4 linked regions of the Homo sapiens genome follow. The protein of the gene in region 1 purifies or fractionates together with the protein of each later gene. This does not show direct contact. Each region holds a gene or a part of one and is shown in the gene's direction. Other genes may lie near its edges.

Region 1 (7,036 bases):
TGTCTTTGATTCCAGCCTTCTAGCTTTTTTAAAAAATACATAACTTTAAACGAATTGTTTTTAGAACGATTTAAAATTACTTTTGGAATACTTAGAACTGTGGTTATTGTTCCCAACTGGAACATGTTTTTATGTTCTTCCTCCAAATTAACAGGTATTTATTTTGTTGTCTAAATTAATCTGCATAATTTTTCTTCAGGCTTTTCTTCAGCAAAATGGATCAGCCTTTTGGGTTCTTTGTTTTGTAATTTTATGTTGTTTGGGTGCAGAACCAAAGCTTAAAAACTTTGTATCTAGAGCATATGGCATAATAAACACTTAACAAATATGTGAATGAATGAATGGATTGAATGAATGAACAAACAAAATTGAGGTGAAGCAAAAGCACTGATGTCATAGGGTGTAGGGTCTTCAGATGTAGAGATTTTTGCAGTTGGCCTAGTAAAATGAACTTGAAGATTGACACTGGTTTGCAGACAACTGGGAAATTCTGTTATTTTCAGCAACGTATTAACAACATACTGTAAAAATACAGTTGTAAAGTTCATAGATCCAAAGTTTCATAGTACTTTTTTGATAGAAATCATACATGTTTATGGTAGAAATTTTGTGAAATACAGGGAATGAAGAAGAAAATATGACTTGTTTTTAAGTCTGCCACCTCGAGAAAGGCAGTGTTAGTAGCCATTTGGGATATTTATGCCTACAAATGTCAGCACTTAATTAAAATTGAGGTTATATATTTTCAGTTTTGAATCCTTCGTTGTTGAGAATCCAATTAAATTTTGTTTTCTCTTTAATTTTTAAACTTTACAGGCCCCTTCACAGATGTAGTCACTACAAATCTTAAATTGCGAAATCCATCGGATAGAAAAGTGTGTTTCAAAGTGAAGACTACAGCACCTCGCCGGTACTGTGTGAGGCCCAACAGTGGAATTATTGACCCAGGGTCAACTGTGACTGTTTCAGGTAGCAAATCATGTTCTGAATTTATGTACATTTGAATTTTGACCTTTTATGATTATGTTTTTGTTTAATAAGGTTTCATCTGGAGGGAGGGAAATAATTCTTATATTATTCTGGTTTTGCCTTTAAAGATGTCTTGTTACAGTACTCTGCAAGCTGTTTCAGAAAATTTCTCACTCATCTTCTGTGTAGGGAGTGTGGTCAGTTTATAAGAAATTATTGTCAATTACAAACTTTAGTCTTTATTTCTACAGCTAACCACTACCTTCTCTGCCTTTGTTATTTTATCTTTGAAAAATTATATCATTTTTCTGATGGGTCATTCTCCTTCAGATCATGATCATATTACACATTGCATGCAGCTATAGAAGTGTCATAATTCTTTTGCTTAAAAAGGTGCAATGCCACTTTTTTGCCTACTGTGTCAAATCAGATGAGTCTTTATGCCTTTCATTGTAAATGTCAACAGTGTCCTGTGTGTGAAAACTTTATTTTTATTTTACTACTCTCTTATGTGTTTACTTGTCAAAGAAGTATGCTTGCCATATATGGATTACTTACTCCTGCTGTGGAGTTGATACTGGTACCATATCTAATGCCCCCTATAAACTGTTTCTTTCTTTCTCAGTCCCTCTGACTTCACTAATATAGCTGAGAAATAGGAAATAGGAAGTAAATATGAGAACTTTTATGGTTCCATGTATTTTACTTAGGGGAGAACCTCTCAGGCTGCATTTACTCTTTCTTTACAGCAGTACTTCTCAACTCCCACTATATGCTGTAATAACACAGGGAGCAGGAACACACATGGATTCATCTCTCCCAGATTGGAATCTCTAGGAGCATGACTTAGAAATGTTACATTTAGGCCGGGCGCGGTGGCTTATGCCTGTAATCCCAGCACTTTGGGAGGCCGAGGCGGGTGGATCACGACGTCAGGAGTTCAAGACCAGCCTGGCCAAGATGGTGAAACCCCATCTCTACTAAAAATACAAAAAATTAGTCGGGTGTGGTGGTGGGCGCCTGTAGTCCCAGCTACTTGGGAGGCTGAGGCAGAGAATTGCTTAAAACCAGGAAGTGGAGGTTGCAGTGAGCGGAGACTGCACGAGTAAGACTCCGTCTCAAAACAAACAAACAAAAAAAGTGTACCTTAAAAAAAAAAAAAGCCTGGGTGATCTTGATAAGTAATCCTAAGATATTATAATAATTCTGTATCAGTTTTCAAGTCCACAGCAGAATTGGGTACAGAGAGAGAGAACCCAGGGTAGGCTCATTGAGAGAGTATTTAGAGGTGGAGCCTGACTACAAAGGCCATGAAGGACAGACCATAGAGTTCTTGGTGACACTAAATCTTCCCTCAGCAGGTATAGCCAAAAACCTCAAGAGCTAGGAAAAAGATGTTTTAGTGAGTCTTGCGGTAAGGAGGCCTGGGAGGAGTGCTTTTCATGTTTCTTTGCTAAGTCTAATTCATCAGTTCCTGGGAAAGAGAGATGGGAAATAAAGATGAAGGAATGCATGCACTCTGCATGTTGCTGCTTTCTACTACATCTTTAAGCCTTTAGCACAATTGGAAGAAGAGAGAATTCTTTCTTTTTTGAGACAGTGTCTTGCTTTGTTGCCCAGGTAGGAGAGCAGTGGTGTGATCTCAGGTGACTGCAACTTCCGCCTCCTGGATTCAAGTGATTTTCCTGCCTCAGCCACTTGAGTAGCTAGGATTACGGGCGTGTGCCAACATGCCTGGCTCATTTTTGTATTTTTAGTAGAGGCAGGGTTTCACCATGTTGGCCAGGCTGGTCTCGAACTCCTGACCTCAAGTGATCCATCTACCTTAGCCTCCCCAAATGCTGGGATTACAGGCGTGAGCCACTGCGCCTGGCCAGAAGATATAATTATTTCAATCCACATGGCTAAAAATAGTTTATTGGTACAAACAGTTATATCCCTAGGAATCCATACAACTATGCAGAATGACTTTTTCTTTGAGGGGCCTAGATTGCTGGTTTCTGTGTATTAATATTTCTTGAGAAAACAACGTATCAAAACACTTTCTCCCACAGAAACCTGACTTATTAAAACCTTCAGACAAACTGGTTACTGATTACGCAAACATGCCCTTGGATTGTTCTACTTAATTAGAATTTGGCTTTTCCAGTTTTTAGTGTAGTGTATTTCCATTTACAGTCACTCAAAGCTATGCTTCTTCCAACAACCTTCTCTGGTTAATTCTCTGTACTACATGCTCATTTCTCTTTTTCCCTGTGTCCTTTTGACGCTTTGTTTTTTGAATTTGCTTCAATTTGTGCACATTTTTATATATGTTTTCAAGATCGTCTTTGTCTTGTTATGTGGTCTGCAACCTAAATTAGAGTATAACTCCTATAAACTTAACCATGTTGTAAGTTTTCGTTTTATTCACAAATTTTTGGTTCATAGTGATTAGCTTATAATCATTAACTCAGTGAAGGTTGCTAATGGAATTTTATTTAGCTTAAGCTGTATTCTGAGGCATTTTATCCAGTACATTTCCTGCTGCTGTGTATTTGGCCCCTTGAAAAAGTTGTCTTAACCTTGATAGCAGTTAATGGACTTCTCAGACACACCTTATGAATAAGACTTTATTACATAATTATTTCTTACATTTATTTACCCGTGTTTATCTTTTTGAAAGTGTAGAGATATATCTTAGAAATAATCTAAAGTTAGGGAAATAATTTCTATAATGCCATGTACATATTTTGTGTAACTGTTGATTGATTCTTTGTATAGTCTGTTATATTGGACTCATGTTACATAAATTTAGCATGACTTACAACCACATGGAACCTTAGAAAACTTAAAAGACGAGAAATTATAAATGCTTAAAAATTGCTCACGCCTGTAATCCCAGCACTTTGGGAGGCTGAGACGGGCGGATCTTGAGGTCAGGAGATCGAGACCATCCTGGATAACACGGTGAAACCCCGTCTCTACTAAAAATACAAAAAAATTAGCCGGGCATGGTGGCAGGCGCCTGTAGTCCCAGCTACTCGGGAGGCTGAGGCAGGAGAATGGCGTGAACCTGGGAGGCAGAGCTTGCAGTGAGCCGAGATTGTACCGCTGCACTCCAGCCTGGGCGACAGAGCAAGACTCCGTCTCAAAAAAAAAAAAAAAAAAACTTAAAAATTTTGAATGTTATTGAGACTGTAGAATAAATTTTAGAACTCAAGAGGCTATATGGTTTCCTTGTGTACTTTTGTTTTCTTAGAAGATTTAAATAAATTCATAAACTCTGAAATAGATGTTTATTTAAAATACAATTTTGAAAAATTAATTATATTAAAACAATATATGGGCTGGGTGCTGTGGCTTACGCCTGTAATCCTAGCACTTCGGGAGGCTGAGGAGGGCGGATCTCTTGAGCCCAGGAATTCTATACCAGCCTGGGCAAAATGACGAAAACCCTTTCTCTACAAAAAAATACAAAAATTAGCTGGGCATGGTGGCATGTGGCTATAGTCTTAGCTATTTAGGAGCCTGAAGTGGGAGGATTGCCTGAGCCTAGGGAGGTTGAGGCTACAGTGAGCTGAGATTGCGCCACTGCACTGCAGCGCAGCCTCAGCCACAGAGTGAGACCCTGTTTTAAAAAACAAAAAACAGATGGTAGTGAGGTTTTAAGTTACTGAGTATTTCTCCTTTAAATATCTCAGTTGTATAATTTTAAATCAGAAAACACTAAAATGAAGCCTAAATTCATAGTTTTAATAACTTATATTTAATCTGAGCTTATAGGCATTATAGTTAACGTTGGCAAAGTTTTGAAAATTTTCACAAGCTGAGTTTAGAAAGGGCAAAATCATAGATTCATATTTAATTTTTAATTGTAATTGTTTATTTTGTTGGTTGTGCAAAACTTAGTAAATTAGAAAGACAGACAATTTAAAAATACTTGGGATCCATTAAGTTGATTCTTAAACATTCCAGTGTTTGGTTTCTTGAACCCTTCTTGGTTTTTTTTAAATTTGCATATTTGTGAAGTAGTAGGAATGATACTATTGCCAGATACGGTTTAAGGCAAATCCCAGACTTAGTATAATTTAATCTGTAACTGTTTCAATGTATGTCTTTCAGACATGCAGGAGACAATATAATATATCCTTTTTTTCTTATTTAGTAATGCTACAGCCCTTTGACTATGATCCGAATGAAAAGAGTAAACACAAGTTTATGGTACAGACAATTTTTGCTCCACCAAACACTTCAGATATGGAAGCTGTGGTAAGTATAGAAGAAGAATTTGTTTTGGGAAGTGGAGTTTAAACTGTGGGTGTTGTTTAGCAGTCAGTAGAAAAACTTAATTTCTAAAAACTAAAAGTTAAATTTAGGTTTTTAAAAAACTGCCAATTTCTTCATTATAGATAATCCTAACTTAAAGAATGAAAGAATTTTTAAATAGTATTTTTTTTTAGAAACAATTTAGAAATGCTGCTACTGGCCTGGTGCAGTGGCTCACACCTGTAATCCCAGCCCTTTGGGAGGCCAAGATGGGAGTATCTCAAGCCCAGGAGTTCGAGACCAGCTCAGGCGACATGACAAGACCCTGTCTCTACAAAAACAAACAAACAAACAAACAAAAAACAAAAAAAACCACCACAACAAAAATGAGCTGGGTATAGTGTTGGACGCCTGTAGTCCCAGCTACCCAGGAGGCATGGGAGGATTGATTGCTTGAGCCCAGGAGGGGCGACTGCACTCCAGCCTGGGAAACAGAATGAGACCAACTGGAAAAAAAGAAAGAAATGCTAAGAAGAAAGTCCTATGGTTGCTAGTAATATCATCGTGATTTTAATGGATGGTGATAGTAACTAGGATTATATAAAGGTTCTGTGACATTAGCCGATAACAATGGCAGGGTGATCAATAAAGAGTGCACCAGTGTGTTTCAGCCAAGCCAGGCAGCTTCACTCATCTTTTAGCTGTCCCGTGAGGTGAAACTTACTTACCATGATCATACCTCCTATGTCTCATGTTTGGTTTTGTTTATTTTTAGTGGAAAGAGGCAAAACCTGATGAATTAATGGATTCCAAATTGAGATGCGTATTTGAAATGCCCAATGAAAATGATAAATTGGTAAGTAGGAGAATGTAAAAAAAATTGGGAGCTGTTGAGCTCTCAGTTCCTTTGATTAATTTTGCTTTTATTTTTGACCTTTGAGGTATGTGTGATATGGCTATTACACTTCATAAGACTCAGTGGTTAAGTTTTAAAAAACTTGGTATGCCTTTTTTTTTTTTTTTTTTAAAGTAACATTTTGTTTATCCAAGAAGAAAGAAAGACTCACTTTTAGGTCAAGACTGCATCCTGGAGAAGAATCATTTAAGTCTACCAGATTTTTTGTGACGTAAACCACTGCAGGTTCTTTTTTAGAATGAGATGTGTATACATAATTTAAAAATACATATAAATTGCTTTTTGGCCACTATGTACCGGCAGTTTGGGGATAAATTCACTTACATGGACAGTTTATTCCAGGTTTAGTTATTCCTAGGTATTTTGCTCACTTTTGTTTTTAGTCAAATCCATCTGATTGTATTCTTTAGTAAATAATTATTATGTTGCTTACTCATTAGTGTAAGTCTAATACAATTTGGGGGACTGAGGGATGTATTTGTTTATTCAAAAACAAACAAAAAATAGTCTGTGAATGTACCGAGTGGGTTGTAGTCACTTACCTTGTCCATTTCCCTGTCTGGATTGCAAATTTGAATCTTTTCCTATGGTGAGAGAGACTTGAAAGATAAATTTTTCTGTGTGTGTATGTGACTTAATACATACAATAATATGGATAAATAGAATGGTGTGGCACAATTTGGTTACAATCTGACATGACTACTGCCTTAATCTAGTGGCCATTTGCTCTATTGAAAAGTAAACATGCAGATTAAATATGTGGGCTCAGTTATTGTGTTCCTCTTTCAGGATAAGCAGAAATGAAAAGGTCTCTGGTAATTAGGTGTTGACCAAATTATATTTTGAATTTTTAAAATGCCTCTTTTAAGTGATTTTTGAGGTATTTGCCAAAAGCAAAAAATT
Region 2 (2,974 bases), on another chromosome or scaffold:
GTCTAGTTGTTCATGAGGAGCCAGAAATCTAAATTTTTATGAGAAATCTCATATTTGCATGGTCAAAGATTTAAAAAAATTTAAATACCAGTAGGCAATCAAAATGTATCTGTGGGCTTTCCTTAGCCCAGGTGCTGGTAACCCCTGACTTCTGCTACAAAGAGGGATTATTCTGTCTATATACGAGGCTGAGAAGTGAGTTAGGGCAACATAGTAGGTAACTGGGGTGGATTCATGGTTAAGAGCAGGAAGAGCAGGAAGCCACCACTGTTCTCCCCAGAGTCAGGCTGTGGACTGAAGGAGATTTCAAGGTTGGATTCTGGTTCAGACAGGAAAGCTGCCTGGAGAAGACTTTGCCTTTATGGGTCACTGAGTGGGGACCCTGTGTGGGAGCCCTGCCCAGGTGAGGTAAAACCTTGAAAGATCCTTCTGTGAGGTTAGCTCCCTTTTCTCTTGAGGGAGCTAGTAGCTTGAGAGAGCTAGTTTGTCTGGCTTCTGTGGAAGGCTGTGCATTAAACAGCAACAACAACAAGAAAAAACATTTACAGTTCTTCCTGAGTTTAAGAAAAGCCAGTATGCCCATAACAGAAGGGCTGGGAACATGTAAGGAATAAGAGTCATCTGAACACCAGCACAGTTATTCAGTATAGTGCCTTCTAGTCATAACTAGATGGTATTAATACCATTTTAATTCTTGCCTTTTTCTCACTTGATATTTGATTGATGGTGTTTCTTGTGTGTGCTGATTTGTTTGTGACTACTGCCTGCTGGAGAGAGCCTTTGTTGGGTGTTCCCCTGTGGGCTGGAAGTCACTGGTATGCACACCCTTGCCTTTTCTTTCCCCTGGCCATTCATCTAGCTACTCTCCTTTTCTCTTGTCCCACTGTCAAAGTGCTTCTTTTTTTTGGCCAAGTAATCAGTCTCGATGGAAGCCAACCAAGCTCCCCTTTTATTTTGCTCATTTCTTGGGGTTTCCTCCTGCCATGCCAGGGTAGGAAGGTCAAGGTCATCTAGATCTCCAAAGAGCAGCTGGGCTGAGGAGGGGTACTGAGGCCAGCAGCCTGGCCTGCGTGTGAGGTATTAAGACACGGCAGACACACAGAGTGGCTGCGGTTATCCTTGCTTCCCCTTTTCCCTGTTGAGAGGTCTCCATGTAATAATGCCTCCTTTCTTCTCTTGCAGGGCGATGGCTGGGTATACTTCAATCCCCTCTGGAAAGCACACTGATGGGGTGGAGGTGCAGAGCTTTCCAGTATAGCCCTGTTTTTGTAGGAATATTAAAGTAGTAGAGTATCAGGGTTTTGTTGGCATTCACTGAGACCTTGTATTAGCATCCAAGAAATGATGAGAGAGAGAGAAATTATATACTATGAAAAGTGCACCCCCACACTCTGCTAGAGGAATGAATTTATTCAAGAGCCATTCGGGGCACGTGTGTGTACACACCGTATACGTTCACACACATGCACTATGTAAACATCTGAGTATGATTACACATTTAAATACTGCACTCACCAAGGTTAAAGTGGGTAATCATAAGCTCCTTTTTATCAATGAAGTTTGAAGTTTTTCTATTTTTCACTTTGCCAAAAATGTTTTACACTCACAAAGATATTCTCACTTAGTCAACTCCTGTCAAAATGAAGGTGAACTGGCATGGCCCGATCACTGTCCATAAGGGAGAAAGTGGCTCATTCCTGGTAGAAGTATGGGTGGTTATCATTTCAAAATTATTGTGATTCTCACCTCCCTCCCCACCTCAGTGTTTTGTCTGTCCGCGCCCAAGAAAGATAAGCAAGTATTTCCTGCTGGATGGGGGTTGGCAGGAAGCTGTTAAAGATTTATGCCAGAGCCTTGCAGGATGGAGCACCTCTGGGACAACTAAGAGCCAAGGCCCACCAAGGAGTTTTCCACCCGTCTCTCATGGTCACAGCGCTAGTCATTCATTTTTGAGAAGTTGCTTCTTTTACATCAGAAAACCAGTCAATCATATGGAGACTTCTTTTGTGATGAAAAAGGGCTTTAGAAGTTAAATACATGCATGCACATGAAAACATGCACAACCACAGCCTCAATCTTGTATTTAGTTTGGGGAAAGAGAAGAGAATTTCCTGTGGATTATTTTTTCCTCAAGTGCACCTCTCTGGTTAACCCAAACTCTGCAAGAAAGCACTGTGACTAAAACATACATAACGCCTGCATAAATATTCCATGGTTTCAGTTAAATTTCAGTTTTTAGCCTTTACACATGAGGTCAAAGGAGTGACGAAAATACAAAGCAAGGAAAAAATGAAATATCTGGTTTTTGCTGAATGCTTAATTTATTTTTTACTGTGCCACTCCAATATTTATCAAATCCAAATAGCATGAATGCTTCTCTGTAGTAATACTAATTTTGTGCCTTTTGTCTGCTTTCTTAAGACCAGTTGTTCACACTTTGTAGATATTAGACAAATATATTTCGATTGAATACATATCTGTGTCTGTGTTTTATTTTCAGGGATTCAACAGTTCTATTAAATTGGTGGCTCTAAGTGAGCTCAACTTTTCCTGGTTAAATATTTCTAGTTATTGATATGAAGAGCAATCATATCTATATGGAAAAAGTATTTAACACATTTAAAAATGTACCAGATAAACATTTATGAATATTTTCTGGTAAGTCCATAAGAACATTTAACTCCTACCCAGTGAGTGTTGTTTCACGAGAAGAGTCACTGCCAGAAGTCACAATAGAAGCCTACTTAGGTCCACAGTCTTTAAAGCATCTGGGTGAATCAAGTATCTGGAACCATCTTATTTCTGACAGAGAAAGTGGAACAAATGCTATTTTGAGAAAAAGAAGAAAACTCAACTCAATGAGACTGAAAAGTAATCACTGTGTTGTTGGATTTTCCAGTCTGACTACAAAGCATAAACCATCTGGGAAGTAAAACATGGAGAGGGCTCACTTTTCTTTTGAGGCCAGGGGTAC
Region 3 (7,963 bases), on another chromosome or scaffold:
CCCAAATAATTTTTCCTTTTAAATTTTGTCTTTAATTAAGCTGGTCCTGCATGCACAAACCCTTTAGTTAGCTGCAAATAGACTGCTTAGTTTACAGGTTGTCTCCTAGGCAACCATCCACTGTGCATTTAGCTTAGAGAATTGAAAGCAGGACAGTCTCATCCAGGAAGGAAAACAAGTTTTGTATGCTCTTCCAAGTTGTTGCTTAAGTGCTTTAAAACTACCAAACCCCTATGTACTTCCATGGTTGGCACAATTACTGTGATCACCTGATGCACTGAGACTTTCTCTAAGAGATCCATGCCTTTGTAATCCCCACAAGGTGCCAGAAGGGCCCCTTTCAAAGCTGCATATAGGTCACAGAGTGAGAATCCAATCGATTACCACCAAACTGATTGCATTCTTAGACTCAGCCTTGAGAAAGCGCTAGCAGACAGAAATCCTTACATTACAACATACTTCTTCTCTAGATATGCTTGTGATATTCTGAAGCAAAAGCTTCAGTAAACAGACTGCATTTTTGTCTGAGTCCAGTGGTAATAAACCCAACTGCAAAAGACTTCAAATCATGGACTATGAAAACATAATCATGAGGAAGTGGACACAGGGCACTCCATAAGGTCACCCGGCATTTGTGTGCTGCTAAATTCTTTTCTGCCACTTACCAAAGGATGCAGGGGTTTCTCTTCTAAGGTAGGGCGTAACATTATATATTCTCAACTGAATGGGGTACGATATTCTATCGCAATAACAACAGCTGACATTTATTGACTAGTTCCTACGTTAGTCCATAAAGGACATGATTAATGTCATTTAACCCTCATAACAACTCTATGGAGTTGAAACAATAAACAGCATCATTGCCACGTTACAGAAGATGACACTGAGGCTTAGAACTTTTGAGCTAATGAATGGTGGAGCTAGGGATTGAACCTAAGCGGCCTGGCCACAATGTTGCAATACTACCTTTACCATGCGCAAGCACGTACACACACACACACACACACACACTCTCTCTCTCTCTCTCTCTCTCTCTCTCCTTTAGTGGATGAAGACTTCAGGGTAAAAACCATTCAGAGATTGTTAGATCTACGTAAACTCCCTCATTACCAATTCAACTTCAAGCTGCTTGACACCAATTTAAGCACACACAGGCTATTACTCTGTTTTGCTTCCTATGCTCTACTTTGCTTCTACTCCCATCAAGGTGAGTACTCTCTCAGCCTAACAGAGGAAGGTGCAAGTACCGTAGTTTCTGACTTTTAGGATTTCTGCCAGGTTATCCTAGGGTTCCAGCTTGTCTGCAATCCATGAATCTTTAAATTGGCTTCTCAAAAAGTAATCCTGGCCAGATGTGGTGGCTCACACCTGTAATCCTAGCACTCTGGGAGGTTGAGGTGGGTGGATCACCTTAGGTCAGGAGTTCCAGACCAGCCTGGCCAACATGGTGAAACCCCATCTCTACCAAAAATAAAAAAATTAGGCCAGGCGTGGTGGCTCACACCTGTAATCCCAGCACTTTGGGAGGCTGAGGTGGGTGGATCACGAGGTCAGGAGTTCGAGACCATCTTGGCTAACACGGTGAAACCCCGTCTCTACTGAAAATACAAAAAAAATAACCGGGTGTGGTGGCAGGCGCCTGTAGTCCCAGCTACTCGGGAGGCTGAGTCAGGATAATGGCGTGAACCTGGGAGGCGGAGCTTGCAGTGAGCCGAGATCGCACCACTGCACTCCAGCCTGGGCGACTGAGCAAGACTCCATCTCAAAAAAAAAAATTAGCCGGGTGTGGTGGCTAGTGCCTGTAATCCCAGCTACTCGGGAGGCTGAGGCAGAATTGCTTTGAACCCAGGAGGCGGAGGTTACAGTGAGTCGGGATTGTGCCACTGCACTCCAGCCTGGGTGACAGAGTGAGCAAGACTCCGTTCCCACCCCCCCCAAAAAATGTAATCTTCTGGCTATGCGCAGTGGCTCACGCCTGTAATCCCAGCACTTTGGGAGGCCAAGGTAGGAGGATTGCTTGAGCTTAGTTGTTTGAGACCAGCCTGAGCAACATAGTGAGACCATGTCTCTGCAAAAAATAGAAAAAATTGCTGGACGTGGTGGTGGGCACCTGTAGTTTCAGCTACTCAGGAGTCTGAGGCAGGAGGATTGGTTGAGTCCAAGAGTTTGAGGCTGCAGTGAGCTATGATCATGCCACTTCACTCCAGCCTGGGAAACAGAAAGACATCCTGTCTTTAAACAAAAAAGGAATCCTCCTTTTGTCTCTCATTTTGAGATAGAGTCATTCAAACCATTCTCTTTTTCAAGAAACTCAATGTTTAGAAATAGTGGAGGGATAGGCATACAAAACAAGGACAATATCAGGCTGCCCTAGGGCTGTGTCAAAAGCTCTAAGGAAGCATGGAAGGGGAGTGTCTGACTTCCTGGGTTGAGGGTGGGGGATGTATGTTTGCCTAGGGCTGCTTGAACAAAATGCCACAGACTGGAAGGCTTAAACAACAAAAATTTATTTGCTCACAGGGCTGGGCGCCGTGGTTCACACCTGTAATCCCAGCACTCTGGGAGGCCGAGGAGGGTTGATCACCTGAGGTCAGGAGTTTGAGACCAGTCTGGCCAATAAGGTGAAATGCTGTCTCTACTAAAAATACAAAAATTAGCTGGATGTGGTGGCACATGCCTGTAATCCCAGCTACTCAGAAGGCTGAGGCTGGAAAATTGCTTGAATCTGGCAGGTGAACGTTGCAGTGAGCCAAGATCTCACCACTGCATTCCAGCCTGGGTGACAGAGCAAGACTCCATCTCAAAAAAATATTTTTTTATTTGCTCACAGCTCTGAAGACTAGAAGCCCACGACCAAGGTATCAGCAGGTTGGGTTTCTCCTGAGGCCTCTCTCCTTGGTTTGCAGGTGGCCACCTACTCTCTGTGTCCCCACATGGCCTTTCCTCTGTGTGTGCACATCCCTGGTGTCCTAATCTCTTCTCATAAGGACACTAGTCAGATTGGATTAGGGCCCACTCTAGCGGCCTAATTTTAACTTAATCACCTCTTTAAACACCCTGTCCATAAATACAGTCACATTTTGAGGTACTAGGAGTTAGGGCTTCAACATATGAATTTTGAGTGAGAATCCAATCGATTACCACCAAACTGGTTGCAAATACAAATAAGCTCCTAACAGGGGGCAGAGAAAGTCTTCACAGAAGAGCAAATATCCAAGCTGAAACTTGAAGGACAAATTTTACCAGGTAAACTATAGACACAAGGACATTGCAGATTCTAAACGACAGCATGTCCAGAGGAAAGAGAAAGCACAGGATGTCGAAAACATTGTAGGTGCATGTTAAAAGAGGCTGTCTATTAAAAGAGAGTGGCAGACACAAAAGATGTGCTGCTCAGACCTCCCTTAAAGAAAGACTCACTGCCCAGCTGTAAGGCGTGTGGTTAGATGAACAGCCTACGGCTGTTGGGTTTATCAGGTTTGTCTAACTGTTGAGCCAAGGACCTGCTATTCTTGGAGTGCTTCCTCCAGCCAAAAACTGAGCAAACAGTGATAGCCAAGGCCACTGTTTTCTTGGGGAGATCCTGGCCAATGATTGACGGAGCAAGGCAGTAGTACAAGGGGCTACGCATTTCCTGATGCATAATTTTTGCCCTAGCACTTCCAGTTGGACTTCAGAGACTTCGCCAGCTTGGAATTGTAGTGTCTGCTTTTTTAGAGCACCAGTCTGAAAAAAAAATAGTGAAAAAGCAAGCTGCAGAGTGGGAGAAGGTATTTGCTACATATATAAACAATATAAAGCTCAGATGCAGAATATATATAAATAACTTGAAGGTGTTAAAATAAAGACAAGGCCAGGCACAGTGGCTCACACCTGTAATCCCAGCACTTTGGGAGGCCGAGGGGGGCGGATCACAAGGTCAGGAGATCGGGACCATCCTGGCCAACATGGTGAAACCCCATCTCTACCAAAAATACAAAAATTAGCTGGGTGTTGTGGCGCATGCCTGTAATCCCAGCTACTCGGGAGGCTGAGGCATGAGAATCACTTGAACCCAGGAGGCAGAGATTGCAGTGAGCCGAAATCGCGCCACTGCACTCCAGCCTGGCGACAGAACCGAGGTGGGCAGATCATGAGGTCAGGAGATCGAGACCATCCTGGCTAACACGATGAAACCTCATCTCTACTAAAAATACAAAAAATTAGCCGGGCGTGGTGGCGAGCGCCTGTGGTCCCGGCTACTCGGGAGGCTGAGGCAGGAGAATGGCGTGAACCCGGGAGGCGGAGCTTGCAGTGAGCCAAGATCGTGCCACTGCACTCCAGCCTGGGCGACAGAGCAAGACTCCGTCTCAAAAAAAAAAAAAAAAAAAAAAAAAAAAAAAAAAAAATGAAGCGTTTGTTGAACACCATGTTGCTCTTCCCAGAAACCAGGTAACTAGTATGATTTTATTTCAGGACAATCAACTGAGCAACTTCTTGCAGGGTCAGGGGCAGAGGGTAGAAGTGGTATTACAGCACCTAGTTTATTGCCTTACAATCAATAAATAGAGGGTGAATGAAAAGAAACCCAATAGTTAAAGTGTAAGCTAATTGGTACTAACTACAAATATGGGTTGAATGAAAACAAACCCAACATGCTTTAGGTTTTTTAATACAATCTTATCCACATGAGTTTAGGGTCTTGTCCTATCACCTTGGCTTCTGTTCCCTTTCTGTATTCATCACAGGAAATTTTCAAGTTTTATGAAACCAGCTAGAGCGGAGTTTTATTAACCAGCTGAGGGCGGACTAAAGACTTAACAGACCTGGGCGAAGAAGCAGCACTCCTACTTACTAGGGCAAGACTCATGAACAGGGGGCGGGGGCTCCGGGGGCGGGGACGCGCCCCGTTCTCTTTCGCTCTTCTTCCCGGCAGCCTTAGCGCCAGGCCCGGCGCTCCTCAAGATGGCTGCCGACAGTGAGGTGATTTCTTTGCTCCCTACTTAATCCTTGTCACTATCTAAATTCGTTCCTCATGTCTTCGCCTTGGGGCTTAATTTCTTTTTCTCTCCTTCCCCTTCCCGCAGCCCGAATCCGAGGTATTTGAGATCACGGACTTCACCACTGCCTCGGAATGGGAAAGGTGAGTGAATCGCATTTTTGGTTACCAGCTCCCATGGGCCCTGGCGTCCCCTAGCCGCTTCCCTGACCCCAGACACACCACAAGTGACGCCACTTGTGCGGGAACGGTAATACCGTGGGTCCCGGGTCTCCTCCCCCAGTCTTCTTTGGTCAACCGCAAGCCTCTTCCGCGTCTCGCGTCTGGCAACACCCGGCCCGCCCCCGTCAGCCAATCCCTGAGGCTCAGGCTCTCAGAAAGTTTTGTTTTCTCTCCTGTCAGACCGCTTCCCTTAGACTTTGGTTTTCTGGTTGTTACCCACTCGCAAGAAAAATTTCCGAGGCTGCAACAACCGTTCCGGTTTTCATTACCGTTTAACTCATTATCGTAAGCAGTAAACTTGGTAGGTTGTGCCGCACCTCATCCCGTGTACGTTGGTATACCCTTTTCAGGAGGAAGTCTTTCTTCAGAGTATTGGTAGTTGTCCATCTGTCACACTCCCACCATCTCCATGCTGTCTTTAATTTTTTATTTTTATTTATTTTTGGAGACAGAGTCTCAGTCTGTCCGCCCAGGCCGGAGTGCAGTGGCGAGGTCATAGCTTACTGCGGCCTCGAACTCCTAGGCTCAAGTGAAGCTCCCGCTTTAGCCTCGGGAGGAGCTGGGACCACAGGCACGCGCTATTACGCCCAACTAATTTTTTAAAGATCTCGCTGTGTTGCCCAGGCTAGTCTTGAACTCCTGGGCTCAAGCCTGGGCCGCCCAAAGTGCTGAGATTACAGGCGTGAGCCTCCGCCCATCCTGTCTTTTAGAATAACCTTTTTAAAAAGTCTGCATATGGTTTTGGAATGCTTTGATTTAAGTTGTTACATTAAAGTGGGTACTGTGCCCAGGCTTCCTGTGCCTGTCAAATTCAGATGAACAGCTGTCTGGGTGAAACTGTTCTATTACTGAAATTAGTTGAAAGCCAAGTTTGTGGAGGAGTGATAGCTTAGATCGAGAAGGTTTCTGTTAAGTGTCACAGAAACCCTTCAGTTTCCTGGGTGTTGAAGTCAGTGTTTACGCTGTTACAGCATTTTATAATCTTTCTGGTTGGGAGAGGAAATTTGTGGATGTCGTGTCATTAGGTGGCACAGGAAAATATAAAAGGTCCTTGTTGGAATAATAGTTAGACCTGTGGTACCCTTCATAAAAGTGTCAGTAAGACATAACCACACTGGCAAGACTTCATTGAGTAGGTACTGGGTGTCCAGAGCTATATACAAAGGGAAAAGCAGAAACTTGACCCATATATTTTTAAAAAACAACAAACAGCAAATAGTTAAAATGTAAGCCAGTTGGTACTACCTGTAAAAATAATAATTAAAATAATTATTATTTAAATAGGGGTGATATTGTGGACTACAATAGTTGGAGATATTTTCATAGAAAAGATAGGAAATGAGCTGGGCCTTGAAAGTGGGAAGTGGTTGGTTAAACATGAGAATGGACTGACATGGGTAGAGACATAGGTGAGAATGAATCTTTGAAGGGACTGAATGAAGAAATATATCTTCACTAGAGTGAAGACTGTCTATTGAAGGGAAATAAATAAGGTTAACAAGGAAGACGGGATTGGGTTATGGACATCTTCCCAAACTAAATACAGGAATCCAGATTCAGTATTCCTATGACCAGTGATTCTCATACTTTAATGTACATCAGAGTCTTAGATTGCTGGGCCCCATCCTCAGAGTTTCTGATTCTGTAGGTCTGAGGTGGGACTGAAAATTTTGCTTGTGTAACACGGTCTCAGGTAATTCAGATGCTGCTGGTCAGGAGACCACACTTAGAAAGAACCACTGCTTAAGACAATAGTGAGAGACCCTTCGTTTTAGAGTGGCCAGGTGATATGATGAAAGTGGTTTTAGGACATGATGTAGAATAATGGTGGGAGACTTAACTTGATTCATAATTAGGATGGTGATTTGTGGACTGGAATACAAAGGGAACCTAGAAGGGAGGATTGTAACATATTTCAGAGAAGATTTAGGTAATAAACTTGATGATACGTTAAAAGTGGGAAAAATCAAATGTGAACTGTAGTTTTTTGCCTGTAAGAATGAATGTAAGGAAGTGTCAAAGTGAGAAGATTTGAACCTGTTGATTTTGAAATAATTTGATGTCTTGAAGGTAGTTAGAAAAATGTAATTCAAATCTTGGAGGGTGGGGTAGGGAAACATCAGTTTTGAATGGAAAAATGATCACTTTCCCCTAGTTAAAAATATCCTGAAGTGGAATATTAAGTCCTTTAGCTTTGCATATGGAAATAATTATTAACACCGTTATAAGAACTATTGCAAAGTAGAAAATTTGGTTTTTGGCTTTTACACTGTAGTGTGCATTTTACAATTCATGAGAGAAAATGTTAAGACTTTGAAGTCTCAAACCTTGAGTTTAATTTTAAATGAAAGATCTTGTGAGTACAATATGTTATGAACTATATAGATAATTTATTGAGAGAACTGTATAGAAGCCCATAACTCTTTTTATCATTTGTTCATTGACAATATTTATTGAATCCCCATATGTCAAGCACAGTGCACATTACGGATTTAGGGATGTGGTGGTTAGTAAAACAGGTACGGTTTCTGCTTTTACTAAATGTGCAGTCTAGTGCATTACAGACACAAATCAAGTAATACAAGTCTGTAATTATGAGTTTATGTAAGAGCTAGAAAGGGAAAGAAACCTGGTCTTATAAGAGCCTATAACAGAGGGACCTAATATAGAATAAGGAATCAGGAAATGACCCTTCATTTCCTGAGAGCTTTTAAGGAAAAAATTACTTAGTTTTTCTAGTCAAATCTCAATACTTGTAGGATA
Region 4 (7,036 bases), on another chromosome or scaffold:
TTTTTTTGTGTGTGCGGTGAGAACAAGATATATACTGTCTTAGCAAATTTCATATTATTAACTAATAAATGTGTTATTATTAACTATGGACACCAGGCTGTACATTAGACCTCCAGAACTTATTCATCCTGCCTCAGTAAAACTTTACCGTTTGACCAGTATCCTCCTATTTGCCCCACTCCCTAATCTCTGGTAACCACCATTTTCTCTCTGCTTCTATGAGCTCGGCTTTATTCCACGTATAAGTGAGATCATGTGGTATTTGTCTTTCTGTGCCTGGGTTATTTCTCATAGCAGAGTGGTTCATTCATATTGTCACAAGTGTCAACATTTCCCTCTTTTGTAATGCTGAATAGTATTCCATTGTATACTACATATACCACGTTTTCTTTATCCATTCATACGTTGATGGGCATTGAGGTTGGTTCCATATCTTGGCTCTTGTGAATAGCGCTGCAGGGAACATGGGAGTGCAGGTATGTCTCATGGGTACATGAGATTTCATTTTTTAAAAGATCACTGATGAATTTTAAGGAAGCAAGATGAGTTAGGAGACTGTATCACTTTAGTCTAGCAAAATAGGCCAGAACTGAAATACAGGTAGTAGAAGAAGGGAGAAAATAAGAGGAACAAGAACACTTAAGGAGCTAGAGTAAACCAGACTTGATGGAGAGGGTAGTGTAAGTGAAAAAGAGTGAAGGGACAAAAATAAACTCCTGGGTTTCACAGTGAAATAACCACTTCACCCACTAGGATAGCTAAAATAAAAGAGACTATAACAAATGTTGGTGAGGATGTAGAGAAATTATAACACCATACATCGCTGTGGGAGTATAAAATGGTGTAGCTGTTTTATAAAAAAATTTTGGCAGTTCCTCAAAAGGTAAAACATGGAATTACCATCTGATCCAGCAGTCCCACTCCTGGGTATATGCCCGAAAGAAATGAAAACATGTCTACACAAAAATATGTGCATGTGTATTCATAGCAGCATTATTCGTAATCACCAAAAAGTGGAAACACCAAAAAGTCCTAAAGAGGCAAATCTACAGAAAGTAGATGATTTCCACCAGGTACCTGGGGGTGTACAGTGACTGCTAATGGGTAAAGCTTTCTTTTTGGAGTGATGAAAATATTCTAAAATGGATTGTGGCAATGGCTGCACAACTCTGTGAATATACTGAAAATTATTGAATTGTATGCTTTAGTGGGTGGATTGTATAGTATGTGAATCATATTGTAGTAAAGCTATATATATATATATATATATATATATTTTTTTTTTTTTTTTTTTTGAGACGGAGTCTCTCTCTTGTCGCCCAGGCTGGAGTGCAGTGGTGCGATCTCAGCTCACTGCAACCTCTGCCTCCCAGGTTCAAGCGGTTCTCCTGCCTCAGCCTCCTGAGTAGCTGGGATTACAGGCATGCACCACCACCCCTGGCTAATTTTTGTATTTTTACTAGAGACGGGGGTTTCACCTTGTAGGCCAGGCTGGTCTCGAACTCGTGACCTTGTGATCCGCCCACCTTGCCCTCCCAAAGTGCTGGGATTACAGACGTGAGCCACCGCACCTGGCTGCTATTTTCTTCTTAAAGTCATTAGTAATATCTGCCAGAACAGTTTTAGTGGAGTGAGAGAGCCACAGCTGGAATCTAGAGAAACAGGAAGTGGGAGGTGAGGAAATCAAGGAATGAGCAAGTTGTATTCTCCTGAGATAGCTGACTATGGCAGGGAAAGAGAAGTGTAAGGGTGTGTATGAGAAGGATCAGGGTTAATGGTAGTATGTTCTTAGGTTATGGGGTGAGACAGTAGAGAGGGAAGTTGGAAAGATTTGTTTTGGCAGTATCTGTTCGAAGTTTACAGTTGCAGGCTGGGTGCGGTGGCTCATGCCTGTAACCCCAGCACTTTGGGAGGCCGAGGCGGGCGGATCACCTGAGGTCAGTAGTTCGAGACCAGCCTGGCCAACATGGCAAAACCCCGTCTCTACTAAAAATACAAAAATTAGCCGGGCGTGGTGGTGCGGGCCTGTAGTCCCAGCTACTCAGGAGGCTGAGTTGGGAGAATTGTTTGAGGTTGCAGTGAACCGAGACTGTGCCACTTCACTCCAGCCTGGGTGACAGAGTGAGACTCTGTCTCAAAAAAAAAACAGAAGACAAAGAAAGCAAGTTTACAGTTTCATATCCTATGAGCCAGCACCTCTACTTCTCAGCATCTACCCCAGAGCAGCAGAATTGCCCGGAGAACTCTTTCATACAGATTCCTGGCCCTATCCTCTAGACTCCAGAGCATCTATTCAGTGAGTGGGGGTTAGAGCTGCAGCATTTACATTTTTAACAAGCTACCAGATGATGCTGTATTTTAATAATGAAAACTTGGAAACTGAATGTTCAATAGCAGGGAAAATGTGATATAGACACAGTATGAAATACTGTGTGGCAGTCAAAAAGAATGTAGTAACTCTGGATAGTTATTTGGTATAAAACTTCATTTGGGAATAATAATTTACCCAAGGCTAGAAGAATCTAAATCAAGAAATCTTAAGTTCTCTTAGGCTCTCATTTTTAGTTTTCTCAGTTTATCAGTATGACCAAACACTCTGTATCTATACTGCCTCTTAAGTAATAGTACTTTTCTTTATTTGAACAGAGAAACTTAATATTAAGTTTGTGCCTGCTGAGGCTAGAACTGGACTACTGTCTTTCGAGGAGAGCCAGAGAATTAAGAAGCTCCATGAAGAAAACAAACAGTTCTTGTGTATACCGAGGAGGTGAGCTGAAGAAGAATTTAGAATGCCACAAAACATCCGAGGCTGCTGAGTATTCATTTTTTAAATTGCTTCTTTTTCTCAGCTGCCATTATTAGATCCAAATTACCTATTTTATTTTGGTTACTTATATGAGGAATTTTTTTCCTTCTATGATTGTTTCAGACCAAACTGGAACCAAAATACTACCCCAGAAGAACTCAAACAAGCAGAGAAAGATAACTTTCTAGAATGGAGACGTCAGCTTGTCCGGTGAGTATTATAGACTCTATGAAGACTTACTTTGAAATCCTGAGTTCAGATATTTGGCATGCTTACACAGCCATTTGTGTTTTGAAGTTTTGATTCTTTTAAGAAGGAAATGGTAGCATTCTGCTAACAAGTGCAAATAGATGTATGCACAAACAAGATTGCTAGGTGCAAATGCATCCTTGCACAGAGATCGTGAGTTGGTTACTCTGCTCAGTTCCGGGCCTTTTCCTTTCATTCCCTTCTTTGGCCATTGGGCATCCTGGAGTTGATCGCTGCTCTCCTGCACATTTTTCCAGTAAGAGTGTGGGAAAGAAATGACTTTGTGTGATAGGTAAACTTCCAGGGCATAAATAGCTTCAGGATAAAATTTGAATTTGGTGGAGTATTGTCTAAATAAATAGTATTTTTATGGTGTCTCAGCAGGAAATATATAAAATAATTTGACTCTGGATATTTGTGCCCAGTACTTATTTTTAATGTAATAAATTTGAGCATTTACACTGCTAAAAATTGTCTATTATAATCTGGCAAATATATAAACTTCTCATTCAAAAACTAGGCTAGAAGAGGAACAGAAGCTGATATTGACTCCATTTGAACGAAATTTGGACTTTTGGCGCCAGCTCTGGAGAGTCATTGAGAGAAGGTGAATTATCATTTTCTTTTGTGTAATAAAGACATTGTAGTGAAGTTATATTCGATTTGGCTGTTGATATAGGCTTATAGGCTCAGGGTATGGGAATTAAGCTATGCAGAGGGTTACTGAGAATTATAAAAACACAGCATGATACTACCGTATATTTTGTATAGTTTTTTTGTTGTTAGATGAATATGTTGATAAGTGTGTGAGAATAATGAACATTTTCTGCAAGGTGAATTCTGAAGCACCTATATAGATATTTTAGCAAATGTATATTTGGTTTCTACTGGTAATGTGGAAAATATGGATACGAAAAAGAGTTAAGTTCCTGCCTGCAAAGAGCATCTATGTTATGGGGAGAGGCGAATGTCAGAGCTCCTGTCAGCCGAGTTACACCATGTTCAGCTAAATGCTAAGCAAAGCACCAGGCACCAGGGACACACAGATGAATGACATGCAATTCTTGCACTCAGAAAACTTAATACGTAGTGAAATACAGAGGGCAGTATGATTCCTGCTTTGCTGCAGATAGAAAGGCAGTGGGCTGAGTCATAGCAGAGGAAGGAGTGGTTGATAAGTATTGAGGAAATCACGGGGTGGTTTTTATGTTTTTTATTTATTTATTTATTTATTTATTTATTTGAGACGGAGTTTTGCTCTTATTGCCCAGGCTGGAGTGCAATGGCACGATCTCAGCTCACCACAACCTCCGCCTCCTGGGTTCAAGCAGTGCTCCCGCCTCAGCCTCCCAAGTGGCTGAGATTACAGGCGCACACCACCACGCCCAGCTAATTTTTTTTTTTGTATTTTTAGTAGAGACAGGGTTTCACCATGTTGGTCAGGCTGGTCTCGAACTCCTGACCTCGTGATCCACCCGCCTCAGCCTCCCAAAGTGCTAGGATTACAGGCATGAGCCACCATGCCCGGCCTGGTTTTTATTTTTTTTAACTGGGCTCTGAAAAGAAGAGAATGATTTTGACAAATTGAGAATGGGAGATCTTTATTCTTTTTCATGTAATGCTAAGGAGAATTCCTGATTGTTAGAAGTTGATGAACACCTGTCTCTAATCTCACCTCTTTGGTATAGTTAAAAGGTTTCTGTTTTCCTCAAAGAGTTTCTGAATTACTTTCAAGGATGCCATAAATGAACCTTATATTTGAAATGTTTTCAACAAGGACCCTTCAGGCTGGTTTTTTTTCCTTTGAAATCTATAAAGTGAACCTAGTAAGAACACTAGGAAACAGAATGCTTTAATTGGGATTCTCAGAAAAGAATCTTATCACATTTAGCATTGTTATTAAGAAAACAGGGCCCAGCGCGGTGGCTCACACCTGTGATCCCAGCACTTTAGGAGGTCCAGGCAGGTGGATCACTTGAAGTCAGCAGTTCGATACCAGCCTGAGGAACGTGGTGAAACCCTGTCCCTACTAAAAATACAAAAATAGCCAGGCTTGGCTACTACTTGGGAAGCTGAGGCAGGAGAATCACTTGAATCCAGGAGGTGGAGGTTGCAGTGAGCCGAGATCGCACCACTGCACTCCAGCCTGGGTGACAGAGCAAGACTCTGTCTCCAAAAAAAAGAAAACAGTACTTGGACTAAACTTGTAAAAGTCACTTACATTTCCTATTAGGGTGATGACAAAGTCACTTGAATGCCCCCATCCTCAGCTCTCTACGGGTACAGAAAGGGCTCTTGGGCTGGGATGCGGGGAGGTCAGAGAAGCAAGGCAAATCTCTAAGGCAGAAGAAGGGAAAGGCTTTCTCTGAGGCAGAAGAAGGGAAAGGCTTTCTCTGAGGCGGAAGAAGGGAAAGGCTTTCTCTGAGGCGGAAGAAGGGAAAGGCTTTCTCTGAGGCGGAAGAAGGGAAAGGCTTTCTCTGAGGCGGAAGAAGGGAAAGGCTTTCTCTGAGGCGGAAGAAGGGAAAGGCTTTCTCTGAGGCGGAAGAAGGGAAAGGCTTTCTCTGAGGCGGAAGAAGGGAAAGGCTTTCTCTGAGGCGGAAGAAGGGAAAGGCTTTCTCTGAGGCGGAAGAAGGGAAAGGCTTTCTCTGAGGCGGAAGAAGGGAAAGGCTTTCTCTGAGGCGGAAGAAGGGAAAGGCTTTCTCTGAGGCGGAAGAAGGGAAAGGCTTTCTCTGAGGCGGAAGAAGGGAAAGGCTTTCTCTGAGGCGGAAGAAGGGAAAGGCTTTCTCTGAGGCGGAAGAAGGGAAAGGGTTTCTGCTGATTTGGGGTCCATGCAGGCTCCTTTTACTCAAGCTTGAGGAGGGCTTCGGAAGGCCCACAGTCATTCTCCTGGGGAACTGGGGAACTGCTGTGGAGCAGAGTAGCCTCTTCGTTGGTGCCTCCTTGGTAGTTGATGCTGTGTACTCCTGAGAATGCCCGTTTTCTAATTTCCGAAGAGAAATGGTAACAAGTGCAGAAGTACTGCAGCCCGGACCTTGAGGACAGCACCCTCCATCTTCACACTTAATTACAGTTTTTGTTTTGTTTTCAGATTTTGTCCTACTTCCTATATTATCTGTCTTTCCTCTTTGTTCCTTTTCTTTTTCTCCTGGTTTCTGACTTTTACGGAAGAGGCCTTCCTCAGGTGTCTAGTGGTGTTTATCTGTCTTTAAGAACAAAGCATTACAAAGCCGGTTGACAAGCCTGCCTGTTTAGGTGGAATTTGCCAACTGGTGAGCTTCACTGTAGGGTGCCTGGGCAGGGGTCAGTTTTATTTTGTTGGAATACCCCAAGATGTTAAGATCTGTAGGTCTTTTCCCCAGAGCCAGTCAGTTTTGTGTGTGTGTGGTTTTGTTTTGTTTTTTGAGACGGACTTTCGCTCTTGTTACCCAGGCTGGAGTGCAGTGGCGTGATCTCGGCTCACTGCAATCTCCACCTCCTGGGTTCAAGCGATTTTCCTGCCTCAGCCTCCCGAGTAGCTGGGATTACAGGCACGCGCCACCACGCCCGGCTAATTTTGTATTTTTAGTAGAGACGGGGTTTCTCCATGTTGGCCAGGCTGGTCTCGAACTCCTGACCTCAGGTGATCCACCCACTTCAGCCTCCCAAAGTGCTGGGGTTACAGGCATGAGCCACTGTGCCCAGTGCCAGTCAGTTTTTAAAAAGAAGAATGATCTCCTGCCAGGAAAGGGGCAGGAGGTGGTATAATACAAGGGTGCTGGGCACCTTCACAGTTCAGTATCTTCATAGGCTTATGCTGAATTCCCCTTTTTGCCCTATGGCAACTCTTTCCCATTTTCCCTGTGCCTGAGGTCCCAGTCCTGGAACTTGTCAAGTTCATTTTCTCCATAATAAACCCTAGCCTTCTGCTATTGGGGTGGGGAATGGGGGCTGTGTGGTGGGTTGCAGTTGCCTCACTGAATGGAACAGGGTAGCCGACCTATG

The links.
Region 2: the proteins of VAPA (region 1) and OSBPL10 purify together in Homo sapiens (co-immunoprecipitation; 5 studies listed by BioGRID and IntAct, with this or other methods). This does not show direct contact.
Region 3: the proteins of VAPA (region 1) and RAB3GAP1 purify together in Homo sapiens (affinity purification with mass spectrometry; 5 studies listed by BioGRID and IntAct, with this or other methods). This does not show direct contact.
Region 4: the proteins of VAPA (region 1) and LSG1 purify together in Homo sapiens (co-immunoprecipitation; 5 studies listed by BioGRID and IntAct, with this or other methods). This does not show direct contact.

Annotation. Positions count from the first base shown.
Region 1 is NC_000018.10:9,930,994-9,938,029, forward strand, and holds part of VAPA (vesicle-associated membrane protein-associated protein A), read left to right. Parts: intron 1-816; coding exon 817-969; intron 970-5,116; coding exon 5,117-5,220; intron 5,221-5,992; coding exon 5,993-6,073; intron 6,074-7,036. UniProt on the Homo sapiens protein: Endoplasmic reticulum (ER)-anchored protein that mediates the formation of contact sites between the ER and endosomes via interaction with FFAT motif-containing proteins such as STARD3 or WDR44.
Region 2 is NC_000003.12:31,660,325-31,663,298, reverse strand, and holds the end of OSBPL10 (oxysterol-binding protein-related protein 10), read left to right. Parts: exon of another isoform or gene 1-1,176; intron 1,177-1,182; coding exon 1,183-1,227; 3' UTR 1,228-2,474; downstream 2,475-2,974. UniProt on the Homo sapiens protein: Probable lipid transporter involved in lipid countertransport between the endoplasmic reticulum and the plasma membrane.
Region 3 is NC_000002.12:135,047,364-135,055,326, forward strand, and holds the start of RAB3GAP1 (rab3 GTPase-activating protein catalytic subunit), read left to right. Parts: upstream 1-4,928; 5' UTR 4,929-4,944; coding exon 4,945-4,962; intron 4,963-5,066; coding exon 5,067-5,122; intron 5,123-7,963. UniProt on the Homo sapiens protein: Catalytic subunit of the Rab3 GTPase-activating (Rab3GAP) complex composed of RAB3GAP1 and RAB3GAP2, which has GTPase-activating protein (GAP) activity towards various Rab3 subfamily members (RAB3A, RAB3B, RAB3C and RAB3D), RAB5A and RAB43, and guanine nucleotide exchange factor (GEF) activity towards RAB18.
Region 4 is NC_000003.12:194,662,183-194,669,218, reverse strand, and holds part of LSG1 (large subunit GTPase 1 homolog), read left to right. Parts: intron 1-2,646; coding exon 2,647-2,767; intron 2,768-2,929; coding exon 2,930-3,016; intron 3,017-3,575; coding exon 3,576-3,662; intron 3,663-7,036. UniProt on the Homo sapiens protein: Functions as a GTPase. May act by mediating the release of NMD3 from the 60S ribosomal subunit after export into the cytoplasm during the 60S ribosomal subunit maturation.